Regions from separate parts of the Homo sapiens genome. Here region 2 is linked to region 1. A link means that fine-mapping ties the variant in region 1 to the expression of a gene that starts in the linked region. Tissue or cell type: cerebellum. Region 1 holds a variant in brackets; the other region holds the start of a gene. All regions are shown on one strand. Distances are from middle to middle.

Region 1 (10,081 bases):
CCGAGGTAGGCGGATCACCTGAGGTCAGGAGTTCAAGACCAACCTGGCCAACATGGTGGAACCCTGTTGCTACTAAAAATACAAAAATTAGCCAGGTGTGGTGGTGGACACCTGTAATCCCAGCTAATCGGGAGGCTGAGGCAGGGGAATCACTTGAACCTGGAAGGTGGAGGCTGCAGTGAGCTGAGATTGTGCCACTGCACTCACTCGAGCTTGGGCGACAGAGCAACACTCTGTCTCAAAAAAAAAGAAAAAAATACAAATGGGGTTACAAACACTTAATAAACGTGGTATATAAGCATCCCATGTTAAAATATAATTTTTAATCTAACTTTAACTCTTAGAAGAATTTCTAATCTTTTATGAATATATCACAAACACAGAAATTCAAGAATTTTTTTAGTACAAAGTATTATTTTTACCAAGAAATATCTCTATGCCCACATATCACAAACAGTAAGTATAAAATGTTAGTATGTTCAATAACACTCTAGTACCTAGAAGTACAGAGAAGTATTTAATAGCTCAATTACCAGAAAGAGTATAAAGAGCAACAATTCCTCAAACAATTCTACCACAACATAGTATTAAGCTTCTTAAAAATTACAGTTAAATGTTTATCTACTGGCAAATAGCCCATGTCCTCATCCACAATTTCTGATATCTAGTAATACAAATATCAGTCACTTGTTTTTATGAACTTTTATCTACATTTAAATGTATATCTATTATATTAGATCTGTCACTAAATTACATACTGTATGTGATGTCGGCAGACTGGTGTCAAAATTTATGATGTTTGGTTTTTTGGCTTCTTTACTATCCTGGTCTTCAACTTCCATTTCATCTTCTTCCTCACTCTCTGCTATAAAAGTAGAATATTGTAAGAAAAAAAAAAAGATGAATGAAAACCTTTCAAACATGTAATTCCTTCTTCAAAAGAGGGGTACTTCTAAAACCACATGCATTTGGTAAACTCTACAGCACCGTGAAGAGGGAGCCAGAGGACTGGGGTCCGTGCTGGGCTCTGTCAGTAGCTATTTTTTTTTTTTAAGTCAACTGTGAATTTTAGAATAGTTTAACATTTACAGAGAAGTGTAAAGATAGTACAGAATGCTCCCGTGTGTCACACATCCTTTTCCCCTATAGTTAATTTATATTAGTATGGTACATTTGCCACAACGAAGGAATCAGTCTTGGTACATTACTCTAACTAAGCTTCATATTTTAAATGGATTCCCTTAGTTTTTATCTAGTCTTTTTGCGTTCCAGGATCCCACTTTACATTTAGTTATCAGGTCCCCCTACCCTCCTCTGGGCTAGGGGGGTTTTCAGACTTTGCTTGTTTCTGAGTTTTGAGGAGTACTGGTCAGGCCTTTTGTAGAGTATCCCTCAACTGGGTTTTGTTTGATGTAATTCCCATGATTAGACTGAGGATACGTGTTTTAGGGAGGAAGACCACAGAAGTGAAGTGTTGTTATTCTTTTCCTTTTTAGAAATGGGGTCTGTTGCCAATGTGCTGTTTTTATTACATATCCAGCCTATATATTATGAACTATTCCTGCTGTTAACCTTGATCACCTGGCTACAGCAGTGTGTGTCAGGTTTTTCCGCTGTAAAGTTCCTTTCCCCCCTCCTTTTCACATTGTACCCTTCGGAAGCAAATCACTAGGTGTAGCCTCCACTTCAGGGGTGATGAGTTATGCTCCACTCCCTTGAAGAGGAAATGTAAGTTATTTAAAATTCTTCTATATGGGAGATTTTTCTCTTCTCCCTCACCAGTAACTAATTTTAACACCTTAGACAACTCATTCTGCCCAATTAAATTTTAGTTTCCTCATCTGCAAAATGATAGGCTTCAACAAGTCAACCTCTAACGTTCTCTCAAACTCTCAACTTCAATCAGTTCCTACATAAGTAAGAAAAGAAACAAAGCAGGCAAGATCTGTTAATTAAAACTGAGAGAAAGATAACCTAGCAGGAAGAATTTCACAGCATTTTTCTAGTGACAACATTTCCCTGGCAGTCGCTACATTATCTTAAAATGAAGGCCAGGTGTGGTGGCTCACACCTGTAATCCCAGCACTTTGGGAGGACGAGGCAGGCAGATCACTTGAGGTCAGGAGTTCAAGACCAGCCTGGCCAACATGTTGCAACCCCATCTCTACTAAAAACACAAAAGTTAGCCGGGTGTGGTTGTAGGTGCCTGTAATCCCAGCTACTGGGGAGGCTGAGGCAGGAGAATCGCTTGAACCCAGGAGGTGGAGGTTGCAGTGAGCTGAGATTGTGCTATTGCACTCCAGCCTGGGCGACAGAGCAAGACTCCATCTCAAAAGAAAGAAACAAAGAAAATTTTGCAATCATTTGCATACTATTTTGCTTAATTTTAAATTTAAAAATAAAGTTTGCATGAAGCATAAAACATTTTAAAAGAATGTCTTAGAAAACCAGATGTTACCAATGACAGCAAAGAAAATTAGAAAACGCTACACAATACATATGCTATTGTACTAACTGTGAGTCTGTCCTTTTCATACAAACTATGAGTAAATTTCCTATCCTAGACCAGTGACTCTCAACCACAGGTGATTTTGCCCCTCAGGGGATATTGGTTGCAATAACTAAGGGAGTCCTACTGGCATCTAGTGGGTAGAGGCCAGGGATGCAGCTAAATATCCTACAATGCACGAGACAATCCCACCCAAAGAATTCTCCAGCCCAAAAGTCCAGTGCTGAGGTTGGGAGACCCTGGCCTAGACTAACAATAAAGAATTACTGAATCTCATTTCTCACCTCCCAGTTCATGTATTTTTAAATGCCCCAAATAAACTTCTAAATCGATAAAATGTCATTACGAAATAATCATTTGTTTTCCTTTGCATATCATTATTTAAGTCAAACCACCTCTAGCCAGGCCCCTGACAGAAAATAAAAATGATTTTCAATATGGTAACTGCCTTGGACTTTCTATTTATTATTACAACTTCCTAGATATAAAACTTTGTCAAAAACAGAATTACTTCAACTTATATGTAAATAGCCAATGGTCTAACACTTCATACAAATTTTCCTTGGAACATGTAAGTTTCACTGAGATAAAAAAAGAGCTATCTAAATGGATGACAAAAATATTCTGCATCAAATTGTTTGTATTTCCAACTCTGACAGTATGGCTATCACTTGGCATGCAGCACAACCCACTTTATTGCTCTACTACAGAAAGTTTAAAAGATAAACTATTAGCTCAAAGGCTGGAATTAATATTGTTAAAAATTTACATTTTAACTGTTCTGACTCCTAGTCTCTAAATAATTTCTTTAGTAACCTTTTTTTCATAAATATGGCTAAAAACCACTTTCCCCTACTCAGTTATGTTTATTAATGTTTCATTTGCCTAGGATAAACTCTTCACATCTCAAATATAAAGCTTTTTGTTGGAACTTAGAGGATTTACTCTTCAGAACAACTCGTACTACATGGAATTATGGAAAGCCCAGTGTTTCCCTACAAATAAAATTTACGTAATTTGGAGAGGCATTATTGCTATATCTACACCATCTCTGGGCCCTCTCCCGACGCTTTTCTGAAAAACAAAAAACAAAACAAAACAAACAAAAAAAAAACAAACAAAAAACCACGCTGACTGTTCAGAGCTATCAGTGAAGTCTGATGACTCATCTCATGCAGAGGCACGATGTGAATGTCGACAGAAGATCAGTATCCTCCCTCTTCTATTCACCATTCTCCCTGAAACACCGGATTTGGCACAGAGAGTAGGGCTAATGTCTCTGAAAAAATAGCTCAGCTTTCCATCAAAGGCTGGCACACTTACCCTTGTGTCAACTCAGCTAGAATGGCTTCGAGAACAACCAGTGACTATGGTTTATTTTTACAGAAAAGTTCTCTCCTATATGGTGGGCACGCACTCAGTCTCTTCCTCTTTTAATCCATGCTGCTACCAGTGGACAAATTAATCTTCCAAGCATAGATTTCTTTAGGCAATTACCTGAAACCTAAAACTGTTTCTTGGCAATCCACAGGAAAAACCCAAACCCACTGGCAAGAGATGCCAGTTTCCCAGCAACTTAGACCCAATATACCTCCTAGGCCTTATGTCCCACAACCATATCCTAAATATGTGCTTTTAGATGTCTCCTGATCTACCTGAAAGGCTTTTTCCCAAATCCTCTGACCCTTAAACAACCTCTGCCTCTGAAGAGCCACAACAGCATTCATTTATCTGGCCCTAAATCAACCGCCTCTGCAGTTGATTTACGTTTAGTTATATTCTCAGCAGCCCCGCCTAGACAGTAAACCTCAATTATCAGA[T/G]TGTGTATTACCTCTCGTTTCATCTCCACAACACCTAACATACTTGTCATATAACGAAGGGACTCAAGTAATACTTTCAAGTTTGGATGATACACCTTTTGGAAAGCATCTCTTGAAAGGCATTCCATGAAAAGTTTATGCAATATTCCATGCATTTTTTTTTTTGTTCAGTATTTCAACACAAGGCCAAAGTCTAAACATTTCACACAACATACAGGAAAAAGAAAAACTAAGTATCTCTGATTAAGCATAATCGTACATGCCTGAGAAAGACCGATAGTAAGAAAAACAAAACAGAGAAGTGGTTTAGAGATATAATGACAGACACACCCGGGTTGGAATCCTGACTCTGCTGTGTGACCTTGGGCAAGTCATTGAACTAATCTGCAAATCCAATACTCGCTTATCAAATCGGAAACTGAAAACTGATGTGGGAAGGATTAAAAGGCGACATGCATGCAAAGCGTTAACTGCACGGCTCGTAACATGGTAAGTGCTTAGTACATGTTAGCTGTCACTCTTATTAAAAGGAAGGAGACCAGCAAAAGTAACCGCTGTGAATCTGACCCGGTCCTCTAGTTTCAGAGCATTTCCTAGGAGCTAAACTCAGAACACAAGGAGGATGGAGAGGATGGGTTTCCTGTTCTTAATAGCAAATGCTCCCCCCGACACCCTGGCTCACGGCTCGGGGCAACAGAGCAGCGAAGAAAGCGCCGCGACTCCATCGCTGGCCGAGGGCCGACGTGAAGCAGCTTTCCGGTGCGGCCCTGCTGGGCTGGCTCGCCAGGCTTGGCGCCCCCACGCCCGCCTCCCAGGCCCAGCTGCACCGCTAGCGGCTCCGAGCCTCGCCCCACTCCCGACTACAGGGAACTACTCCGGGCGGTTACCAGGCAGGAGCGGCAGGTGGTTGCCCATGTTGTGCGCAGCGTCCTGCTGATCTCCTTCGCCGGCCATGTCTGTTTACCCGCAAAGGAGGCTGGGACAGGGCGGTGCCGAAGACTCCGAGGGAGGGCCCGTGTCGCGCGGCTGCCGCGCACCGGGGCCACAGCGCCCCCTGGCGGCCCCAGGGGAGCAGACGGCGGCGCGTACCCAAGCCTGAAAGTGATGGCCTAGGCGGGAGGGACAATTACAGGCCTGCGCTCCGTCCCGGGGACAGAACGCCGTCCCCTGCCATCCACGGCTGAGTGCCCGGCGTACACGCTGCAGAGCCCTCACTTTGTTCCAGCCCTTAGCATGACTTATTTAATCCTGATATTTTGCATATGGAGAAACTGAGGCTGAGAGCCTTTAGTCTCCACCTTGTTTTTAAACGAAGGGGGCAGGGAGCAAATAGAAACCTGTTCATGCAGCATTAGTTTCAATTCTTAAAATAAGAAGCATATATGTGAAGGCTGGGGAAATCCATCAGTTATTCCGAGGGTGGTTGAATTATTGCTGATTTTCTTCAGTAGTTTCAATGTATGTACATACAACTTCAATAACTTCAGTAGTTTCCATATATGTACATTACATTCCAAAATTAACAAGTATTAATCAGAAACATACTTGAAATGATGATTGCACAGAATGGAAAACGCCTTATAATTGGTAAATAAAATTGTCTGAATATAAACTAGCCTACTCATTATGACTTCAGCTATGTAAAAACAAGTCACTGTGGCAAAAAAGAAAGACTATGTAAAAAATGAAGATAATTCTGTTATAATGGTGGAGTTGTGACTGGTAAGATATTTGTTTTGGAGGGAGGACAAAAGTTTTCGTAGTGTATTTCAGTATCACTTTTTCAGCGAGGAAGGAAAACTGAAAAATCCTTAAATGAAATACAACATCTAAACATGGTAGTGGTGGTGGTGGGCGGAGGCTGAGAGGAAGCAGCAGCATTGCTCAACAGAAAAGTCATGGATCTGAGATTTGAAAAAATGATTTCAGAAAATTTGCCTCCCTGATAAGTTACAAGCAGAAAACTCCCTTGTGACAGAGGCTTGTGAATCATTCCTGTGTCATTTTGCCTCCTGTCTCCGAATCAGTCTGTGGTCTTCGTCAAATCACTTATGGCTGCGGGCCTCAATTCGCCCATTTGCAAAATAAGAACGAACCAAATAGTGTCGCCTATTTGTTCCAGTTAATAATGTCTGCAACATGAATCATAGCATCACCTTTTACGATGAGGTTAATAACAATTACATATACTACGTAATGATTTAACGGAGTTAAGGTGATCACTCCAGTCAATTGAAGGATGATTCTATGCCAGAATGCCAGCACAGAACGATGAGGGAATGGCCGGTGTATTGGTGTGCGTGTGTGTGTGCCCACGTGAAAGAGAGAGAGAACGCAAGCAAGCAGGGAGCATGCACTAAGTAATATGTGTGTGTGTTTGATGCTGTAACATTATGTCTCACTACAGTTTGTAGAATTTCAATAACCTGTGCTTACGTGCAGTAGAATTTTCTTTACACAAGCATCTAGCTTCTGAATAAGTAAGCTCTGACTTTCCAGTCTTTCTCCCCAGAGGTGATACCAGAATTGTCTGAACCCTGGGTCAATCAAGACTTCTCCGGACGAGAAAGCACAGCTGCAAGGCTGGTGGAGTCTACAAATGTGGCTGGAGAAGCACTGGCTCTTTCTCTGTTCTTTTGTGCATTGCTACAGATCACCGGAGCTCACATCTGTGTATCTTTTACTCCCCAATTCTCCTCCTCTCCTCTCCACTCTTCACATTCACCACCTGCTCCCTCCTTCATTTTATCCCTCCGGAGTCTACCTAGTCATCCACAGCTACACCTTTCAGTAGGGATAACAGATGATCATTGAACAAAAATATCTAAGCAAGCAGGTTTCTTGGATTAAGCACTGGTTATTAAAACCAAAAGGAAAACATGGTCATTTACCATTTGTTTAATTTGGTAACTTTATCCTGAAAGAAGATATCATACTGAGTTGTTCCTAACATTTCCTCTTGCTTGCGTGCAGTATCAATGGATAAGGAGCTCTGCAAGCCAGAGGGAAAAGAAATATATATGTTCATAGATCACTGTCTTACAGCTCAAGAATTAACTTTAATAGTACAGAATTAAGGGTGGTAGAAGACGGGAGAAAATGTAAATGAAAAGGACCATCGCTCTTTCCATTTCTGGCTTCTACACAATATTAGCAGCAAGGAGCACATAGACTGGGAGAGGACATTTCTGTCTCCCTTTATATTGTATTTTCTCTCTCTCTGTCTCTCTTCATATATATATATATATATAAAATTTTTTTTTCTCGAGACAGGGTCTTGCTCTGTCCCAGGCTGCAGTGCAGTGGTGCAATCTTGGCTCACTGCAACTTCCACCTCCTGGGCTCAAGTGATCTTCCTACCTCAGCCTCCAGAGGAGCTGGGACCATAGGCACCAGCCACCACGGCCAGCTAATTTTTGTATTTTTTATAGAGATGGGGTTTTGTCATGTTTCCCAGGCTGATCTTGAACTCCTGAGCTTAAATAATCTGCCCACCTCCACCTCCCAAAGTGCTGGGGTTAAGGGATTAAGGATGAGCCACCATGCCCAGCCTCTACATATTTTTTTAATGTGTTAAAGAATGCTACTACTCTGGTCTAAGCGGTTGATTATCTCTTGCCTGGAGTATGGCAATAGCACCAACACTGGTTTCTCGGCTTCTACCCTTAGCTCTCACAGTGCTTTCTCAACAAAGCAGTCTGAGCGATCCTGTTAAAACACAAGTCAGATTATGTGACTCCCCTGCTCAGTACCCTTCCTTGGCTCCCCATCTCCCTTGCAGTGGCCCTTATAATGCACAGTGGGCCCCCAATATCCTGCCCTGATGTCACTTCACTGCTGCTCTGTGGGCTCTCCCTCCCCTCCATCAACACTGATCTTCTTCTTCCACAACCACATGGACCCATGGCCACCTCAGGGCCTTTGCAATTGCCTTTTCCTTTGGCTGGAGTGCTCTCCTCCTGCATAGATGCGTGACTTTTCCCCTTGTACCTTCCAGGTCTTGGGTCAAATACCCCTTCCTTGGGGAGTCCTTCCCACACTACCCAGTGTCAGATTGTGACCCTCTTCCCACACTTCCCACCATTTTCTACCCTTCTCTGCTTCATTTGCCTTCATCAAAGCATTTCTCAACTTTTAAAATACTATGAGGCCTGGATAACGTAATGAGACCCTGTCTCCAAAATAATAATAATAGAATAATAAAATACTGTGAGGCTTACTTTTAAAAACAGTCTCATTTCTCCCCCCTCAAAGGTATAAGGTCTGAATGGGGAATTTCTGCTCCCAAGAACAGGTTCTGGCATTTAAAAGCTGCTCAAAAAATGTTCATTAAATGAAAGATGAATTGCACAGTTCTGGCAGACACCGATTTCCTACCTACTCAACAGCAATTCCTCTTTCCTTCCTTGCCAAGAACTCTGATTTTGTTTGGGGCAATAGTGTACTCTGCTATGGGGTCGTGTTTGCTGTAAGCCTGTAATAACGAGCCCACTCTATTCCTCCAAGCTCCTCTATGGCTGATGGTATCACCTGATCTGGTCCTGGCTAATGACACCTAGAGAAAGTCAGCTTGGTAGCCTCTGAGAATGAAGAGGGAAGATAACTTTTAGAAGAGATTTTCCTCCATGATGAAAGGCAAAGATATCATTCCTCCCCACTTCCATCTGGGATGAAGATTAAGACCCATATTGGTTTGATGGATAAAACCAGCCAACCTAGTCCAAAGATCCAAAATTGTTTTTAAAGGAAATTGTGGATTTTAGAAAAAGCAAAGCTAGATTAACTTGTAGGCATATTTGGTTATCATTTTTTCAATAGATGAATTCATTAATTTTGGAAGTGCATAAATCTTCCAATGCTTTCTCCCTTGAGGCAAAAGCACAGGTGAGATGTAAGCAGCTCCACGGGCATGTTCCTCTCACAGTGCCACAGTTCCCTCTGCCACTCTGTGAGACACGGGTCCCAAACAGGTGACCTCCCAAGCTAGAGACTTTCTTGCCCTGTGTGGTAATTTGAGTATTTGAATTATACGATTGCCAGCCAGCATTTGGCAATTGAAGAATACATATACCAATATTGATTTCCTGCTTCTCTTTAAAACTGGGAAGATTTGGCAACCATGAGTCAGATTCATGCATGGGAACAATGATCTCCGACTAAATAACAATGCCTGGTTTAGATGGGGCAGCCCCTGTTGGTCACAGAAGCCAACCAGCCAGTGTGTGTGTGTGTGTGTGTGTGTGTGTGTGTGTGTGTGTGTGTGTGTGTGTTACCTGCCTTGATCTGGCCTGCATTTGTGTGTGCAACCACATGTATGAGTGTGTAGCAAGTGATAGAGCAACCCCACATTGGGATTTGCCCAGGACAACCCTGGTATGTGTTTGGTGTATCAGCATAACTACCAGACCAGCCCCACCCCTTGCCCCATTCCACTCTTCAAAGTGTGCCAGTTTGTACAATAAATTGTCCTACATATAGAGTGGCAGAGGTGCTTGCAGCACTGTGATGGGGCTATGTGGACATCGTTATCTGCCTGGGGAATCCCAGTCATATTCAGCCTCCCTTGACAATGAAGGATCATAACTATGGCTCTTTAACTCCTTTGTAGCTCTCTCTGATTCAGTCACAGAGAATCATGTTCATCAACTTTCTTTGAACTATGTTAGTCGTGCTGTCACTAACTTAAAAAGTCTTTAGAATTAAATCAGGGTAATTCTCAAGTTCCCAGTCTACAGAGGCTACAAACAGTTTC
Region 2 (10,081 bases), 54 kb before region 1:
TTGTATTATTATTCTTTTTTTTAGTAGAAACAGAGTTTCACCAAGTTGGCCAGGCTGGTCTCAAACTCCTGGCCTCAAGTGATCTGCATGTCTCAGCCTCCCAAATTGAGCCACCACTCCTGGCCTCCTGAATTTATTTAATAATGTGTAGCCTTCTAACTGAAGAGTAATATTCATGACTGTGGTGTTTCCACAGAAAGGTATAAACTTGCCAGATGCTAACAGCACTCCCTGTCTATGGTATTTACTTTTGGGTATGTTCTACAGAGAGAGAATATTTCCAGTAGGATTTCTGTGCAGTAAATGTCAGTTCCTTTGCAGATAAAGTTTTATTTCCTTTAGGATGGGTCTATATTAAGAGATAATAGAAAACGTCTTGTGTGGGAGAGAGGAGTTTGAGACCGCTTTGGTTGTCTTCACCATGTCCTAAGGGGTTGAACTGGGCATTCTGTCCAGAGTTCTTTCACCCTTTAGTTTAATGACCTCAAAGTTCTGTCCTGCTTTCATAGGTACATACTTCAATAATTGAATTTTCATGTTCTTAATTTTTTTTGCTAATATATAAAAATGTAATTACTTTTGGGGGGAGGCTTATTGAGGTATAATTTATAAGCAGGAAAGTTTACCTTTTAAATGTACTTGGTATGGTTTGGGTGTGTGTCCCCATTCAAATCTCTCATCAAATTGTAATCTCCAATATTGGAGGTGGGGCCTGGTGGGAAGTGACTGGATCATGGGGGTGGATTTCCCCATCAGTGCTGTTCTTCTCATAGTGAGTTGCAGTGAGATCTGGCAATTTAAAAGTGTGCAGTACCTCCCCACCACTCCTTTTTCCCACTCTGGCCATGTAAGAGGAGCCTACTTCCCCTTCACCTTCCACCATGTCTGCAAGTTTCCTGAGGCGTCCCCAACCATGAGCCGACCGAACGAACCATGAGCCAATTAAACCTCTTTTTTTTTTTTTTTTGAGACGGAGTGTTGCTCTGTCACCCAGGCTGGAGTGCAGTGGCGCGATCTCGGCGATCTCGGCTCACTGCAAACTCCGCCTCCCGGGTTCACCCCATTCTCCTGCCTCAGCCTCCCGAGCAGCTGCGATTACAGGCGCCCGCCACCACACCCGACTATTTTTTTGTATTTTTAGTAGAGACGGGGTTTCACCGTGTTAGCCAAGATGGTCTCGATCTCCTGACCTCGTGATCCACCCGCCTCGGCCTCCCAAAGTGCTGGGATTACAGGCTTGAGCCACCGCACCTGGCCTTAAACCTCTTTTCTTTATAAATTACCCAGTCGCAAGTATTTCTTTATAGCAGTGTGAGAATGGACTAATACAATACTGTTCTATGCATTATGGCAAATACAGAGTTATTTAATCACCACTATAATCAAAACATAGAACAAATCTATCACCTTTCTCTCCCCTCAAAATTCTCTCATGCGCTTTCGTAGTAAATACCTCATCCCATCTTGAGCCCCCTGGCAAGAACTGATCATTTTTTCTCTCTACAGTTTTGCCTTTTTTTTTTTTTGAGATGGATCCTTGCCCTGTTGCCCAGGCTGGAGTGCAATGGTGTCATCTCAGCTCATTGCAACCCCTGCCTCCCTGGTTCAATTGATTCTCCTGCCTCAGCCTCCCGAGTAGCTGGGATTATAGGTGCCCACCACCACGCCCAGCTAATTTTTGTATTTTTCATAGAGATGGGTTTTCACCATGTTGGCCAGGCTGGTCTTGAACTCCTGGCCTCGTGATCTGCCCACCTCGGCCTCCCAAAGTGCTGGGATTACAGGCGTGAGCCACTGTGCCCGACCTATAGTTTTGCCTTTTCTGGATGTCATATGAATGGAGTCTATTATATGCAGCCTCTTGAAAGGGGCTTTCTTCACTTGAGAGTCAGATGTGTTGCTGTGTGTATCAGCAGTTTGTTCTTTCATCTTGCTCAGTAGTATTCCATTGTATGGATATGCTCCAGGTTGCTTATCCATTCATCTGCTGGAAGAAATCTGGGTTATTTCCAGTTTGGAATAATTATAAATAAAGTGACTACACCACTCACATACACGTTTTAGTGTGAACATAAGTTTTTATTTCTCTCAGGTAAATATCTAGGAGTGGGACTGCTGGGCCATAAGCTATATGTATAGCTAGTCTTATCAGACACCAGTAAACTGTTTACCAAAGTGGCTGGGCCAGTTTGTATTCCCACCCACGGTGTATGAGAGTTGCAGTTGCTCTTCATTCTCATCAGCATTTGATATTTCCAGGTGTTTCAATTTTAGACATTCTAATGGGTATGTAAAGGTATCTCATTGTTGGCCAGGCGTGGTGGCTCGTGCCTGTAATCCCAGCACTTTGGGAGGCTGAGGCGGCAGATCACAAGGTCAGAAGTTCAAGACCAGCCTGGCCAATATAGTGAAACCCCATCTCTACTAAAAATACAAAAATTAGCCAGGTGTGGTGGCACGTGCCTGTAATCCCAGCTACTCAGAAGGCTCAGGCAGCAGACTGCTTGAACCTGGCAGGCATAGGTTGCAGTAGGCCGAGACTATGCCATTGCACTCCAGCCTAGGGGAAAGAGTGAGACTCCGTCTTAAAAAAACAAAAAGGTATCTCATTGTTGTATAATTTGTATTTCCCTAGTGATTTTATATATATATATATATAATATTTTAGACAATGTCTCACTCTGTTGTCCAGGCTGGAATGCAGTGGTGCAATCACAGCTCAATGCAGCCTGGACCTCCTGGGCTCAAAGTGTTTCTCCCACTTCAGCCTCCTGAGTAACTGGGAATACAGGCACGCAACAGCAACCCCGGCTATTAAAAAATAAATTATAGAGAAAGGGTCTCATTATATTGCCCAGGCTGGGCTCAAACTCCTGGGCTCAAATGATCCTCCCACCTTAACCTCCCAAAGTGCTGGGATTACAGGCAAGGGCCACCATATCTGGCCTCTTAGCGATTGATGAGTATCTTTATATATGTTTGGTTGCTAACCATATAGCTTCTCTTATTACGCTTATTTCTTCATATGTGATATATATTTTTATGTACTATATTTTTGCTGATAATATATAAAAATAGAATTGATTTATGTATATTAACCTGGTATCCTGAGACCTTCCTAAATTTACTTGTTAGTTCTAGTAGTAGTTTTGTCAGTTCCTATGATTTCTGTATAAACCACCATCATGTCATCTGAAAATAGGGACAATTTTACTTCCTTTTGAATTGTTACACTTTCCATATCTTTTTCTTGCTTTGTTAATGGTTATAAACTACAGACAAATGTTAAGAAGTGGTAAGATGAGGCATCCTTGCCTTCTTCCTGATATAAGGGGGAGAGTGTTCAATATATTACCACTAAGTCTGATATTGGCTATGGATTTTTCATGAATGACCTTTACTATATTGAGGAAGTCCCTTCTAATTTTTTTGGCAGTTTTTATGAGTAGGGATTGAATTTTAAGTGGTCTTTCTGCATCTATTGTGATGACAACAGTTTTTCTTTTTCAGTTAATATGGTGAATTACGTTGATTGGTTTTAGATCATTAAATACAACTTGCATTCCTTGCACTGGGGACAAACCCAAATTGATCATGATGTATTATCTTTCTATATACTGTTGGATTCAATTTCCTAACATTTTATTAAAGTTGTTTTTGTTTCTATGGTCATGTGGTATATTAAGCTGTATATTAATTTTTTTGTAGTGTTGATTTTATGTTATGCGGGTTATGCTGGCCTCAAAATGAGAGGAAAACTGTTTCCTCCTCTATTTTCTAAACAAACTTTGCACAAGACTGGAGTTCTTCCTTCCTTATGCGTTTGATAAATTTGACCACTGAAACCATCTGGGCCTGGAATTATCTTTGTGAGAAGTCTGTTGAACAACAATTCAATTTCTTTAAAAATGAAAAGCTATTCAGATTTTTAAATTCTACCCTATTTCAGTTCTGATAAATTGTCTTTTTTATAGAATTGGTGCGTTGCATCTACATTGTCAAATTAATTGGCATAAAATTGTTTATAATACCTCCTCATATATATCTACATGATCTGTAGTAATACCCCTATTTTTGTTTTATTGTCTTGGCCAGTACAGGAGGAATTCTCTTACTCTCTCTCTTTCTCCTCTCTCTCTCTCTCTCTCTCTCTCCAGTTGACCTTCCATGGCCATGGGTTCTCCATCAGTGGATTCAACCAGCCACAGGTCAAAATATTAAATAAGGCTGGGGCACCATGGCGCACGTCTGTAATCCCAGCACTTCGGGAGGCCTAGGTGGGTGGGTCACCTGAGGTCAGCAGTTCAAGACCAGCCTGGCCAACATGGTGAAACCCCGTCTCTACTAAAAATACAAAAATTAGCCGGGCGTGGAGGCGGGTGCCTGTAATCCCAGCTACTTGGGAGGATGAGGCAGGAGAATCGCTTGAACCTGGAAAGCAGAGGTTGCAGTGAGCTGAGATCGTGCCACTGCACTCCAGCCTGGGCGCCAGAGTGAAACTCCATCTCAAAAAAAAAAAAAAAAATTAAATAGCAATTAAAAAACACAAAGAAGCGATATAGCATAACAACTGTTTACACAGCATTTATATCAGGTATTATAAGTAATCTAGAAATGATTTGTACTACAGAATGTGTATAGTCTATATGTAAATATTATGCCATTTTATGTAAAGAACTTGAACACTGGCTGGGGTGATGTTCTGGAACCAATACCCCATGGATACGGAAGGACAACTGTATATACACCTGCATATATAAACTATATATTTACAAGGCCAGAAATTGTTGAGGGTGCCCAGCACAGTAACTGGCACGAAGTAAGTCATCATAATAGTTGTATTAGCGTTGCCTTCATAGGTGGTGATTTGGAGAATCTATTCTAGGTGGGTACAGCAATGGAGGCTTTGGTCCAGTTTGTCTAGGGTCATGGTGGTGAGAAATAGCAGACAAGCCTGAAAGGATGATTTGGGGCTTTCCTTGCCCCAAAGAGAGAGAGAGACAGAAAATCCTTGCACCGGATGATATCAATGCTGTGCCTCTGAATGTCCATTTGGAAAGCCAGTCCTGTGCTTCCAAAAACAGGATATTCAACACCTTGAAGAGGTGTGGTAATTGCACATCTTACTTTTTACGTTTTAGGAAGTCTACAGAGAGTGGGGCTGAAAAGTTTGGGAAGAACAGGTAGGCATGTGGGGAGGGCAAAAGAACAGAAATAACATGCACAAGCATTTTTCTAGGAAAATTTTAGGGAAAGCTAAGTGATGTAAAGTTACACTTAAAAGACTACACATTTTCGGCCGGGCGCAGTGGCCGAATCCCGGCAAAAGTAATCCCGGCACTTTTGGGGGCCGAGGCCTGGGGAACACGAGGTCAGGAGTTCGAGACCAGTTGGCCAACACGGCAAAACCCCGTCTCTACTAAAAATTAGCCGGGCGTGGTGGCAGACACCTGTAATCCCAGCTACTCGGGAGGCCGAGGCAGGAGCATCGCTTGAAACCGGAAGGCGGAGGTTGCAGCGAGCCCAGATCGCGCCACCGCACTCCAGCCTGGGCGACAAGAGCGAAACTCCGTCTCAAAAACAAAACAAAACAAAAACTACACATTTTCGCACTTTAAGGGCTCAACGGCTGTATTCCCACTCCTTTGCCACTCTCTTTGCTCTTTTCCGCTCTAGAAAGAATTAATGAACTGGATCAAATCTAAGTTCTCCACGTTACAGATGGGAAGCCTCCGGGCCAAGGAGGCCAATGGTTACACAAACCAGGTAAGAAAATAAAATATGCCCAGTAAGTTCATAGGACCGGCGGGCTTAGATTTCGAATGCGCGTGACTCTGTCAACTGTGGACTTAACCCTATGCAGAGATTAGAGGAGAGAATAGTCAAACACGGATAAGTTAACATTTACCGAACAGTCCGTCCTACCCTGGGGTAGGTTTTATTAACAGTCTCGTTTTGCAAAGGAAGACAGCTGCCAGTTGTCTCAGATCGCACGGGCATGCCGCGCAGATGGGCTTCTGAGCAGCTCAGGGCCAGCCAGAGGTCTGGCGAGAAGGGCGTAATTAAACGAACCCGCGCCGGTTTCCTCAGGGCCCCCCGGGGCTCCGCTTCGCCCCAGCGGGCCTCGGCGGGGCTGGGAAACCGGCTGAGGTTCGCCTCACGGTGGGGAGGAGCGACGGGAGGCGGAAGCCCTTCGGTCCGGGCCCCGCCCCCGCACTCGCCCTCGCCCCGCCGCGACTTCCCATTCGCCGCCAACCCATGTGCGTTGGTGACGTCACCGCGTTCACCAGCCCGGAAGTGCGCGTGGCGGCGGTGGCGGCTGCGGCAACAGCGGGGCCGGTAAGCGGGCGCGCGCCGCTCAGAGGGGCAGAGTTGGTGGCGTGAGTTGCTGCCCCTTCCTTCCTGCTGTGGGCCAGAGGCGCCACCGCGCCCGGTCCTCGAGGAAGACGGGAGCGGGACGTGGCGAGAGGCCTCCTCAGCAGTGGGCAAAATAGCCCCGACGCGGAGGTCGTGTCCCCGCCACGTTTCCGGCGACCGCAGGCGCGGATTCCTTGGCTTCCCTCAGCACTTTCCCCTCCGCGCGGACGGCCCCGAGACGCTTTTTCACTGGGCCTTGTCGCCAGCACCCGGCGTGGGGGGTGAGACGCGCCTTTTCAGGGCTGGGGTTCCCCAGAGCGTTTTCCTAAGTCGAGGCGGAGGTGCGAGGAAACTGAGTGGGTCTTTCCGCCCCACGTGGCCTGCCGGGAAGCGCGGCTCCTCCACCCGCTTCCGTGGAATGGAATGGTTTTTCTCTGCAGGTTTACACCGGGGTCACTCGAGAGCTGCTGCGGCCTCCTTATGGGCAGGACCCCCGTATGGGGAGAACGAGGATGTGATATGTAGAAGGGAAGGCCGCGGTGTGCCAGAAATCAGAGGAGATTGCAAGATGGCAGGAAAAGAATCAGGAAAATGGGGGCAGCAAAACTAAATTCATGGGAAAATACAATGTCTAGGAGCTATCCCAGGGTCGTGAATCCTCGAGTGCAGGTGGGGAAGTAGGGTGATACCCACCTGTGACCATGACAAGTTTTGGAGACCAGAAACTCGGTTAGAGTTTCTAGAACCCCGCATCCCTCTCATACTGCCTGAAGCCCTGCTCTGGGGAGAGTGTCATCACAGTACCATGTGGCATGCGAGTGTCGTGGTAATGCTCCCCGACCAAACCACCAAACCGAGGGTTGGGCTGCTTATTCTCGCTGCCCAATAATGAGATGCAGATAAACTAGGAAAGAAAGGAGTTTATTTCTGTAACCAGGTACGGGGCGAAGGCGTGGAAAATATCCCAGACCGACTCAGAATTACAGAGCTTTCCAGAGCTTATATACCTTGTAAGTTGTATGTTTATGTGTAAGTGTGCATTGATCTAAAGATACAAGTGATTAACTTCTTACCCATAAGATCTGAGTCCTGAAGACCTTCCTCTGGAGCCTGAGTAAATTTACTTAATCTAAATGGGTCCAGGTGCTGGGGTGATTACCCTTATATTCTCTCCTGCTAAATCATGGAGGTTTGGGGAGTTCCCTCAGACCCCTAATAAACTTGTTCGTGGAGGCCTGGGGAGTTTCCTCAGATCCCCAGTAAAACTTGTTTAATTCTAAACGGGTCCTGTTAAGAATTCCTTTGTGGCCGGGCTCAGTGGCTCACGCCTGTAATCCCAGCACTTTGGGAGGCTGAGGCGGGCAGATCACTTGAGGTCAGGAGTTCGAGAGCAGTCTGGCCAACGTGGTAAAACCCCGTCTCTACCCAGAAGTATAAAAAATTAGCCGGATGTGGTGGTGTGCGCCTGTAATCCCTGCTACTTGGGATGCTGAGGCAGGAGAATCTCTTGAACCCAGGAGGCAGGGGTTGCAGTGAGCTGAGATCGCGCCACTGCACTCCCGCCTGAGCGACAGAGCGAGACTCCATCTCAAAAAAAAAAAAAAAAAAAAAAAGAATTCCTTTGTTATTTTATCATGCTTCAAGGTCCAGGAAAGGCCTAGGCAAAACTCTTGGGGGGCTTTTGTTACATTCTAGCCTTGTTTAAGGGCACTGGCTGGCTCTTTCAGCTTTTAATATGTAACTCAACCAGTCAGTCAGTACTGAAACAGTTATGGAGGCCTGCGCTAGTGAGACCCCGCCTGCCACAGTAAGTGCTTCTGGAGAACAAAACCAGGTAGATACATAGACCTAGTCGTAATCCCTCAAACTGACACCGTTTTCAGTTTTTTCATCTGAACAAGAGATGAATTTCTGAGTTGATAAACTTGAAATGTGTCCCCCTTTGTTTTCCTTCACTTACCTTCACTTTTAATTTCATTGGTATGCCTGTGTATTTGCCTTGTAGATGTGTAGTTGGTGACTGCCTCTCCAGATGCTGAGGTGCCTGTATCATTGGCACAGGCCAGTGCTGAACCGTAGGTGGAGTAGGCTGTGCCTTCCGAAGCAGTATCTATTCACAATGAAGTTGCAGTCTCCCGAATTCCAGTCACTTTTCACAGAAGGACTGAAGAGTCTGACAGGTGAGAGATTAGGATACCTTTTCTTGATTGGAAACCTATATAAATGGAGAAGTAGAGGGTTAACTTTTTAAGCCAGCATTCGGATATTTTCATTGTTGTTTTAATTATTTTTATTAAAAAACGTAAGTAGAGGGTCTCTTTGTGTTGCCCAGGCTGGTCTCAAAACTCCTGGGCTCACTCCTTGGCCTCCCAAAATGCTGGGATTACAGGTGTGAGCCACGGTGCCCAATGTGCACGTTTTCATTGTTGGAAGAAAGGCTTGGCTGGGTGTACCCAGCCTGTAATCTCTTGGGGAGGCCAAGGTAGGAGGATTGTTTGAGCCCAGGAGTTTGAGGCTGCAGTGAGCTATGATCATGCCACTCTAGCCTGGGCAACAGAGTGAGACCCTGTCTCAAAAAAAGAGAAAGGAATATTAAAAGAGAAAGGCTTACATATGGCTGATCCAAAAATATAGCTAAATCACTGGAAAAGGCAAGAAGTTGACTGCAGTAAAAAGCATGGCTTTTCTGTATGCTGTGCTAAGTACTTGCCATTCATTACAGGACTGGTGCTACTAACTTAATGAGTACGCACATTTTGACCTGTTACGTGAAAAAGGAAACAGATTGTTAGGCATGTGAAGTGCTTTGCCTGTGTTTCTGTAACTACTAACTAGAGAGCTAGGTTTCGAACTTACGCAGATTGATTTCAGAGCCCAGCTTGCAACCGCTAAGCTCTGTTTCCTTCCTAGGTATAAATGCTTTCCATGAGAACTGAAGGAAGAAGGAAATAGGAGTTGCCTCCATTGTGCACGTTGCAAAACCTGTCTGGAAGGAGCATAGGAAATGGCTTTAGCTAAGTGCCAGTAGCTTCTTGCTGTTGCCACAGTTTCATTAGTGTTGATTCTCAATGTTGTCTGCTGATGTTGCTAAAGCAGCCACACAGTAGCATTACAAAGCCTGTGGGAATTTTAATAGCACCTTCATAAATATATTTAGTAGTATATGTAGAAATATGACCTATACAGCACTGGCTATCTATTAGATTCACCTGGGGAGCTTTTAAAGCACACATGCTCGGGTTCTACCTGCAGCCTACTGAATTAGAATCTCTGGGTGGGATGACCATCTATATTTTTAATAAAAGCTCCACAAGTTAATTCTGATGCACAGAAGATAGACGAACCATTACTTTAACATGACTCACCTTGTATTAGCTTATTCTCAAAGCTACTTTCCCATTCTTGAAATTGGATGATGGCTTTTTAGGTACGTGCCAGAGATAAATGGCCCAGAATATGTTGATTCTTTTAGATTGTTTTAGGCAGACTTTAAGTAGAGGGCTTAAATGCATGTTTGGTTTTGCCGATGCTTCACTATCTTTTTTAATTGGAGAGAGTGAAAATTGCTAAAAATTGCTGTCCAATAGAAATTTATGAGCCCATATGTAATATAAACTTTTTTACTAACCACATTAAAAAGATAGAAATGGTGAAATAAATTTTAATAATTATTTTTGGTTCATCTAATTTAATCCAATATATCTAAGATACTATCAGTATGAAT

What was found. PIP is the estimated chance that this variant, and not a neighbour inherited with it, causes the effect.
Region 2: TRNT1 starts here. The variant in region 1 is fine-mapped to the expression of TRNT1 in cerebellum (GTEx, PIP 0.98).

What each region holds. Positions count from the first base shown.
Region 1 is chr3:3,174,405-3,184,485 of GRCh38, forward strand. It overlaps CRBN (cereblon), which reads right to left and starts at 5,287. Exons shown (of 11, transcript NM_016302.4): 1 at 5,217-5,287; 2 at 759-865. The coding sequence starts at 5,283. RefSeq lists a silencer at 5,351-5,520. The variant T/G (reference allele first, on the strand shown) is at 4,330.
Region 2 is chr3:3,120,652-3,130,732 of GRCh38, forward strand. It overlaps TRNT1 (tRNA nucleotidyl transferase 1), which reads left to right and starts at 6,289. Exons shown (of 8, transcript NM_182916.3): 1 at 6,289-6,339; 2 at 8,363-8,537. The coding sequence starts at 8,390. LOC124909339 (a long non-coding RNA gene) reads right to left here and starts at 6,180. Exons shown (of 2, transcript XR_007095786.1): 1 at 5,909-6,180; 2 at 1,346-1,987. RefSeq lists a silencer at 5,993-6,412 and enhancers at 6,620-7,350, 6,773-6,852.